Linked DNA regions of Homo sapiens. The protein of the gene in region 2 interacts with the protein of the main gene of each other region in a pairwise test. Each region holds a gene or a part of one and is shown on either strand. Other genes may lie near its edges.

The links.
Region 1: the proteins of DHRS2 (region 2) and ZHX2 interact in a two-hybrid assay, tested with the Homo sapiens proteins (one large-scale study listed by BioGRID and IntAct).

What each region holds. Positions count from the first base shown.
Region 1 is NC_000008.11:122,949,114-122,952,930, reverse strand, and holds part of ZHX2 (zinc fingers and homeoboxes protein 2), read right to left. Parts: intron 2,041-3,817; exon of another isoform or gene 1,640-2,040; 5' UTR 1,421-1,639; coding exon 1-1,420. UniProt on the Homo sapiens protein: Acts as a transcriptional repressor. Represses the promoter activity of the CDC25C gene stimulated by NFYA.
Region 2 is NC_000014.9:23,642,586-23,646,290, reverse strand, and holds the end of DHRS2 (dehydrogenase/reductase SDR family member 2, mitochondrial), read right to left. Parts: intron 3,140-3,705; coding exon 3,072-3,139; intron 2,181-3,071; coding exon 2,129-2,180; intron 1,883-2,128; coding exon 1,748-1,882; coding exon of another isoform or gene 1,737-1,747; intron 1,465-1,736; coding exon 1,409-1,464; intron 1,150-1,408; coding exon 1,038-1,149; coding exon of another isoform or gene 989-1,037; 3' UTR 652-988; downstream 1-651. UniProt on the Homo sapiens protein: NADPH-dependent oxidoreductase which catalyzes the reduction of dicarbonyl compounds. Displays reductase activity in vitro with 3,4-hexanedione, 2,3-heptanedione and 1-phenyl-1,2-propanedione as substrates.

The DNA.
Region 1 (3,817 bases), on a different chromosome or scaffold from region 2:
CGATGAGCCGGTAAACCTCGGCATCGTCAGGGAACTGGCTCTGGAGAAAGCTGGCCTTGAGATGTGCTATCTGCTCCTTTGTCTTCTTGCGGTCACTGGCTGGTGTGAGCGGGGGGTTGGCCACCTTGGGTGGGGGCTCTGGCACCTGAGCGATGTGTGGACGCTTGGGTTCGGGGGCAGCTTGGGGAGTCACCAAGGGTCTCTTCTGGCCATGGTTGGTGACTCCTGCCACGGCAAGTGTGATGGGGGAGCAAGAGACGGTTGTTGACCCGCTGGTCACCTGAGTCAGCACCAGGCTAGTCTGGCCGAGGATCTGGCACGGTAGAGCCGTCTGGAGGATGGGCTGCGTCACCTTTGTGGGGGCCAACTGGGCGGGCAGCACAGTGATGGTCGGGGGTACTGACTGGATGGTGCCGTTGAACATCTTCTTCCGGGCCTCCTCCACCTCTTCTGGGGACCAGCTGATGCCATGCTTTAAGCGCTGGGTGGCAAACCAGATTCTGATGTGCTCCTCTGGGTGTTTGGAGGCAGCTGTCAGCCAGGACAACTCAGCCTGGGTCGGGTAAGGAAACTTGTTGAAAGAGTTGATCATCGTGGCATTTGTATCCAGGGCAGAGTTGTATTTGGTAGTATTTAGTGGGACAGGGACCTTGGGCACAAGGTTGATATTTGGTGGCAGCTGTACAGAAGGCATGACGTGTCCTAATGTGTCTTGGAGGAGCTCCACCCCGCCGAGTCTCGAGAGGATCTCAGCTGTGTCTGTCACCAGGCGGGCGGTCCCTTCCACGTGGTTCTCGGGGGTGATCTCCTCGGGCTTCTTGGGCACCTTCTTGGCATCCGCTTTTGGTTTTCCAGGCTTCATGATGGGGGTTTTACTCACCGAGATCCCAGAATCACTGTCACCAGTTCCAGGGCCACTGGTGGTGATGGACACGACATGGTTGGTGGTTTCGATGGACTGTTCCAAGACAGTTTGATTATTGCGTTTAATTAACTTCAGCTTGAAGTTGGCCTCCCCGGGATGGAACTTGGAGTTGTGGTCGGATAGGGAGTCGTACTTTTTGGTTGTGAAGTTACATTCTGCACACACGTAGAGGGGGTTGAGAATCACGTTGGGATGCTGCATGTCGACATGCTCCGTGAACTCGTTCAGGTTTTGCGTGGAGTAGGGGCAGTATTTGCACTCATAACCACCTTGGAGTTTTTTGGACTGGCTTTCCCCCATAGATTTCACCTCTATCACTTCGTTTTCTTTGGAAGAGTTTTCAAGTTCTGCTGCCCAACTGTCCTTGGCCACGTCAGGCTGTGGTGTGCCGATTCCTTTCTCTTTGGCCCTGTCTACTTCCTCGGGCACATCTTGTTCTACTACTTGTGATGTCCGAACCATGCATGGAGTTGTAGATTTTCGTTTGCTAGCCATGCTGCCTGTCTGTGTGCAATGGCTTATTTTTGGAGGGGGATAAGGAGGGGGCGGTGAGATTCTTGGAACGAATAAGGTGAAAGGCTTTTGGCTTTATTCCCCCTCAAATGGCTTTGGCTTTCCTTGTGTGCTGAAGTCTACTGTTTGAGTTTTCAGAATGATTTCAGCACAGAAAATTGGAATGGCACCAACCACTAAACACACCAGGAAGCATCATATCTGTGGACAAGAACAAAGACAGGGTCAGTGTCTCTTCACAACGCAAAAGAAACTGGCACTTCTTTATGAGTTTTCCCATGACCCAGCCCAACAGGCACCCAAATCGAACATCTATGGATGCACAGACGGCGTGAAAGTGCTTAGAAACACGAAAAATCACATTCTTCTTCTCTTCCTTTTTTTGGAAGGAGGTGAAAACAGGCCCAAACCAAACAAACATGGATGAGGGTCACCATTTCATGTTTGGAGACAAAGGAATACAGGAAAGGTAGACAGGTCCTAAAATCCTCTGAAGCGGTGAGAGGGAGTCGCAGATGGTGTGCTTGCAAGCCACTTTTAGATATGGTACCTCGGAAGCGAGATGTGTCCCCAGGGGTTGGCAAGTGAAATTTACTCAGGCGCTAGAAAACAGATATGAACATTTTGCTTATCATAAAAGCAAAATCATGATAGAAAATCCAGAAAATGCAGAAAAGTATAAAAGAAAAAAAAAGCAATCACCCCCCCAATATTGCAGTTTTATAGTTCATCTCACTTAAACAGTTTCCCATTTCCATAAATAGTGAGCAAAATAATGATTTTAAAAATCATTATTTCATCACGTGATGAAATCATCACGTGTGGTATATCCCTATAATGCATGTTAGTACATTGTAGGGATAGACCACACATGATACGTTCAGCCATTGGACTTTTTTAAAATTTTATTTTAAGTTCTGGGATACATGTGCAGAATGTGCAGGTTTGTTACATAGGTATGCATGTGCCATGGTGGTTTGCTGCACCCATCAACCCGTCATCTAGGTTTTAAGCCCTGCATTCATTAGGTATTTGTCCGAATGCTCTCCCTCTCCTTGTCCCCCATCCCCCAACAGGCCCCGGTGTGTGACGTTCCCCTCCCTGTGTCCATGTGTTTTCATTGTTCAACTCCCACTTATGAGTGAGAACATGTGGTGTTTGGTTTTCTGTTCCTGTGTTAGTTTGCTGAGAATGATGGCTTCCAGCTTCATCCATGTCCCTGCAAAGGACATAAACTCATTCTTTTTTTTACAGCAATTGGACTTTTGTTGGAAATTTATTTCGTTTTTGGCTCTTATCAACAAAACTGCAGTGAATACCCTTAATCCTTATTTTTGATAACTACCTTTGGATGGATGCCTAGAAGTGGTTCTCTTGACCCATATGTATGGCAGAGTTTTGGCCTCAACTGGCCTTTTCTTTGGTAGTGTATGAGAGGGCTTGACTTACAATCCAGCCTATACAGCTGGATCCAGCCTATTTACAGTAGTAAATACTACTCACAATCCAGCCTATTTAACAGTAGTAAAATACTACTGTTAAAAAGCCTTGCTGATTAGATAGGGAAAAACAGTTTTTTGGATTTTTGTTTGTTTCTGAGACAGGGTCTGGCTCTGTCACCCAGGTTGCAGTGCAGTGGCACAATTCTAGCTCACTGCAGCCTCTATCTCCTGGGCTTAAGCAATCCTCCATCTCCTGGGCTCAAGTAATCCTCCTGCCTCAGCCTCCTGAGCAGCTGGAACTACAGGCACACACCACCATGCCCAGCTAATCATTTAATTTTTATTTTTAGTAGAGACAGGGTTTTGCCATGTTGTCCAGGGGTTTTGCCATGTTGTCCAGGCTGGTCTCCAACACCTGGGCTCAAGTTATCCACGTGCTGCTGTCTCCCAAAGTGCTGGGATCATGGGTGTGAGCCATGCCTGGCCAAGAAGACTGTTTTAATATGCTTGTATGCTTTTCTTGATTGACAATAAGGTTGGATTGTTTTCAAAGATTTGCCCACTATTTATATTCTTTTATGAATTGTCTGCTTATGTCATTTTTATTTAGACATTCAGTGGTTTTTATTATGAATTTGCAAGAATTCTCTTTACATAAATAATACTAATGCTTTACTAAGTTTGTTGCAAAACTTTTCCCAGTCTATCATTTTCCTTTTTTTCTTTTCAGATAGAGTTTTGCTCTTGTGGCCCAGGCTGGAGTATAACGGCGCGGTCTTGGCTTACCGCAATCTCTGCCTCCCAGGTTCAAACGATTCTCCTGCCTCAGCCTCCTGCATAGTTGGATTACAGGCATGCGCCACCACGCCAGGCTAATTTTGTATTTTTAGTAGAGATGGGGTTTCTCCATGTTGGTCAGGCTGGGCTCAAACTCCTA
Region 2 (3,705 bases):
AACCATTCACACCACAAGGACCCGTCCCCGGCTGGTGTGGAGAGGAGGTGTTGCTGAAGGGCTTCCATGAGACCAAGGCCGGGGGTCAGCTTGGAAGCCTTGTCTCAGTTCCTCCCTCTGGACTGGTTCAGGACAACATTTATGGGTGGCAAGAGTGGTGCTCAGGGCCACGGATGGCTCGAGGACCACTGTTCCCCCTCCACTGTGCTGAGCCTCAGTATGCATACACAGAGGGCGGTGCCCCCGAATATGACTCAGGACAATACACAGGGCCTTTTCTGAGAAAGCCATGTGTTCACCCCAAGAGGAACTTCAGCTCTGACTACTCTCCTCTAACTGGAATTATGCACAAGATTCGGTATAACTGTTTTCTCTGGGTTCTCAAAGGCCTGTGTGGCCCAGAAAACATTAAGAAGTATTAGCCTGGAGGACCCCTGGGAGAACCCCAGAATCTTTCCACTGTCACCCACCACCACCTTGCTGAGCCCCCAGCAGGCCCAGTTCAGATAATGGAGCACACACAAAGCCTTCTGCAAGGCAGCACACTCACTCCCGCCTCTGTGTGTCTGCGACGAGCTCAGGGCAGCTGGCGGTAGAGGCCTCTTCCCACCATGCTGCCCTGGGCTCTACCCTTGACAGATGCTTCCAGACTTGAGGATAAATTTGAGTTTATTTTAGGAAAAAAAATGCTTAAAGCACAAATTACAGAGAGGAGGAGCTGAAATCCTTCAAAGGCCTGAGCTTCTACTCCTTTCCCTTAAGATTCCTCCAAAGCACCAGCTCCATAAAATCCTTCAGCTCCCCAGACCCACACCAAGAACCCCACATGTTAATTGGATCAGCCAAATCTACAAGCAGATAAGTCCTAAGGAGAATGCCGAAGCGTTTTTCTTCTTCCTCAAGCCTAGCATGAGTAAGCCCCCAAATTGCTAGTCTGGCAGAATGGCAGACTCTGCCTCCAGATCCAAATGATCACCTAGACACCCCCTCAGGCTCCTGGGCCTGGGACCACAGCTACGCAGCCGCCCCCACTCCTCTCAGAGCCGAGTGGAGTAGCCTGCCACCGCAATGTTCTCCCCGTTGACGTAGCTGGCATCTGGAGAGCACAGGAAGGACACGATTCCTGCACAGTCCTCTGACTCCCCAATCCTGGATGGAAGAAGGACACAGTGTCAAGCATCTTGTACTCTGATTCTGCTGCTCTGGGGCTCACGGATGACAGGTGGGAGTGGGCTCCATGGGGAACAAGGTGGATGCAGCAGGGCTACTTGCACCCTCCAGGGCCATGTGGACTCCAGATTTCAGCAAAAACAATGGCCAGATGACAGGGAGGGGTCTGCTCTTGCAATAGACTCAACTGCCCCTGCCTAGCCACACATGGACCACCAAATCTCCAAACCCCACTTGCCTCTGCAGCTGATGATGTTCCTTGAAGTTCTTCCAGAGAGACTCATTCCCATGAAACTGGGCAAAGGGAAGAAATGAAGGAGTCAGTGCTACTAAAACAAGATGGGCAGGGCCCCGGGAAGGCCACCAGGCAGAACACCTAGGGCAGCTTTGCCCTTCTCAAAAGAAGGAGCATCTTTTCAGGATGGATGGACTGCACCATGGCTGAGTTCAGAGAACAATGAGGACCTCAGTCATAGGCATGCTGACCTAAGGATTCAGTCACCCCTTGATCCCTTATTCACTGGGAAGGGTTCCCACTGAGCCAGACTGGGAGATGGAAGACACACCCAATCCTCACCACTTTGCTGAAGTCAGTTTTGATAATTCCTGGAACCACGCAGTTTACCCGGATGTCCTTGGGGGCCAGCTCCAATGCCAGTGTTCTAGTGAGACCCAGCAGCGCTGTCTTGCTGACATTGTAGACACCCAGCGCCTGGGAAGGGAATTGACAGAGTGATTAGGATATGGGAGAGTGGGGGAAAGCATCAGTTGGATTTCTCACCTACAGGGATCTCACAGGCCCAGCAGCCCTCCCACCCACATGGAGACAAGCTCAGCCCAGGGCAGCAGGAGGATGGTGGGGGTCTGTCCCAGGCACTTTGTCTGTAAGGCTCTGAGGAAAAGAACAAAGTTGCCCCTCACCCTATACCACTCAGGAGCACAAGGACCAAGCACTTACCACTACTGGATTATAAGCTGCAATGGAAGAGACCAGGATGACAGCACCCCTCCTGAGACAAGACAAACATAAGAGAAGCTGAAGCTAAGAGCTTACCACTGATGGTGACACTATCATGAGTTCATTAAATGATGCAACCCTCACAGAAGCAACACAGGTCCTATTACTGTCCCCATCTCAGAGTTCAGAAAACTGAGGCTCAGAAAGGTTTAGTACCAGCCAATACACGGCAGAGCTAGGATTCCATGCCTATTTCTCATAAATACGATGTCCATGCTCAGAACCCTTATCTTCTGCTTCCTCTCTTGCCAGGTGCTTGAAGGAGAGGGCAGGGTGGGCTTTGTGAAGAGGCACCCAAGGCTGATGGTGAGTGCCTATCAATGAGCAACCTCTAAGGAGCAGATGGGGTAAGGGAGACCAGAAGTGACAGTCAGGAACTTTCCTTCTACTGAAGACAGCCCCTGGCCAGTTCCTAAGGGTGTGTCTGTGAGGGGTACAGTCAGATCTGCAGGACCTGGAACACAGGCAGGGTCCCTGGAGACCAAGCGCAGGCATGAGGAGAGGTCTGGGACAGGCTTTTTCCTATGGAGAGGAATGGGGCTAACCCTGTCATTGGTTTTAAGTTGGTAAGAACAGAGAGCAGGTAAGGTGACAATGACCAGCCCACAAGGTCAAGGAGTTAAAGCATAGCCTTGTCCCAAACCTGCTGATGTCAAGGCCAAGGAGGCTATGCCTGGGCCCCTGGAATACTACTCTCATCCTGCAGCCACTGGAATTGGGAATGGCAGCCACACAGATGGGGAGGCAGGACAAGAAGATGAGGGATGTGGAGATCCCAGACCTCTTCTGTCCTCTACCCACTACTGGCTGTGCTACCGACTGTATTTCTGTGCCCACCTCAGGTCCCCAACTCCGACTGGTCCCCACCCCCGCCCTGCCATACCTGTTCTCCATGTAGGGCAGCAACTGGCTCAGCAGCAGGGCTGGGGACTTCACGTTCACACTTAGGATCTGAAATCAGAGCAGAGCATGGGTGAGGGCAGAGAGACATGGTCAGCCCAAGTCCTGCTCTCATAAGACACTTGGAGCCCTGTAATTTGTGCAGTAGACCCAATGTATGTGCATATAAGAGAAACCAATCCCCCTTCTGACTGGTGCAAGAGGTATTTCCAATTTGCTAATGGTTTCATAGGCAGGCAGGCTAAGTCACAGGCCTGTGAGCAGAGCCCTGAAAATGTGAATTGTTCAGGACTGACACGAGGAAGGAAATGTTCAGGCCTTTTAAAGAAAATGGGGACTGGGGGCAGTGGGTCATGCCTGTAATCTCAGCACTTTAGGAGGCCAAGGTGGGAGGATTACTCAAGGCCAAAAGTTCAAGACCAGCCTGAGCAACATAGTGAGACCTTGTCTCTACAAGATTTTTAAATAATTGGCCTGGTGTGGTGGTGCACACCTATAATCCTAGCTACTCAGGAGGCTGAGGCAGGAGGATCCCTTAAGCCCAGGAGTTTGAAGCTGCAGTGTGCCATGATCATGCCACTGCACTCCAGCCTGGGTGACAGAGTGAGACCCTGTCT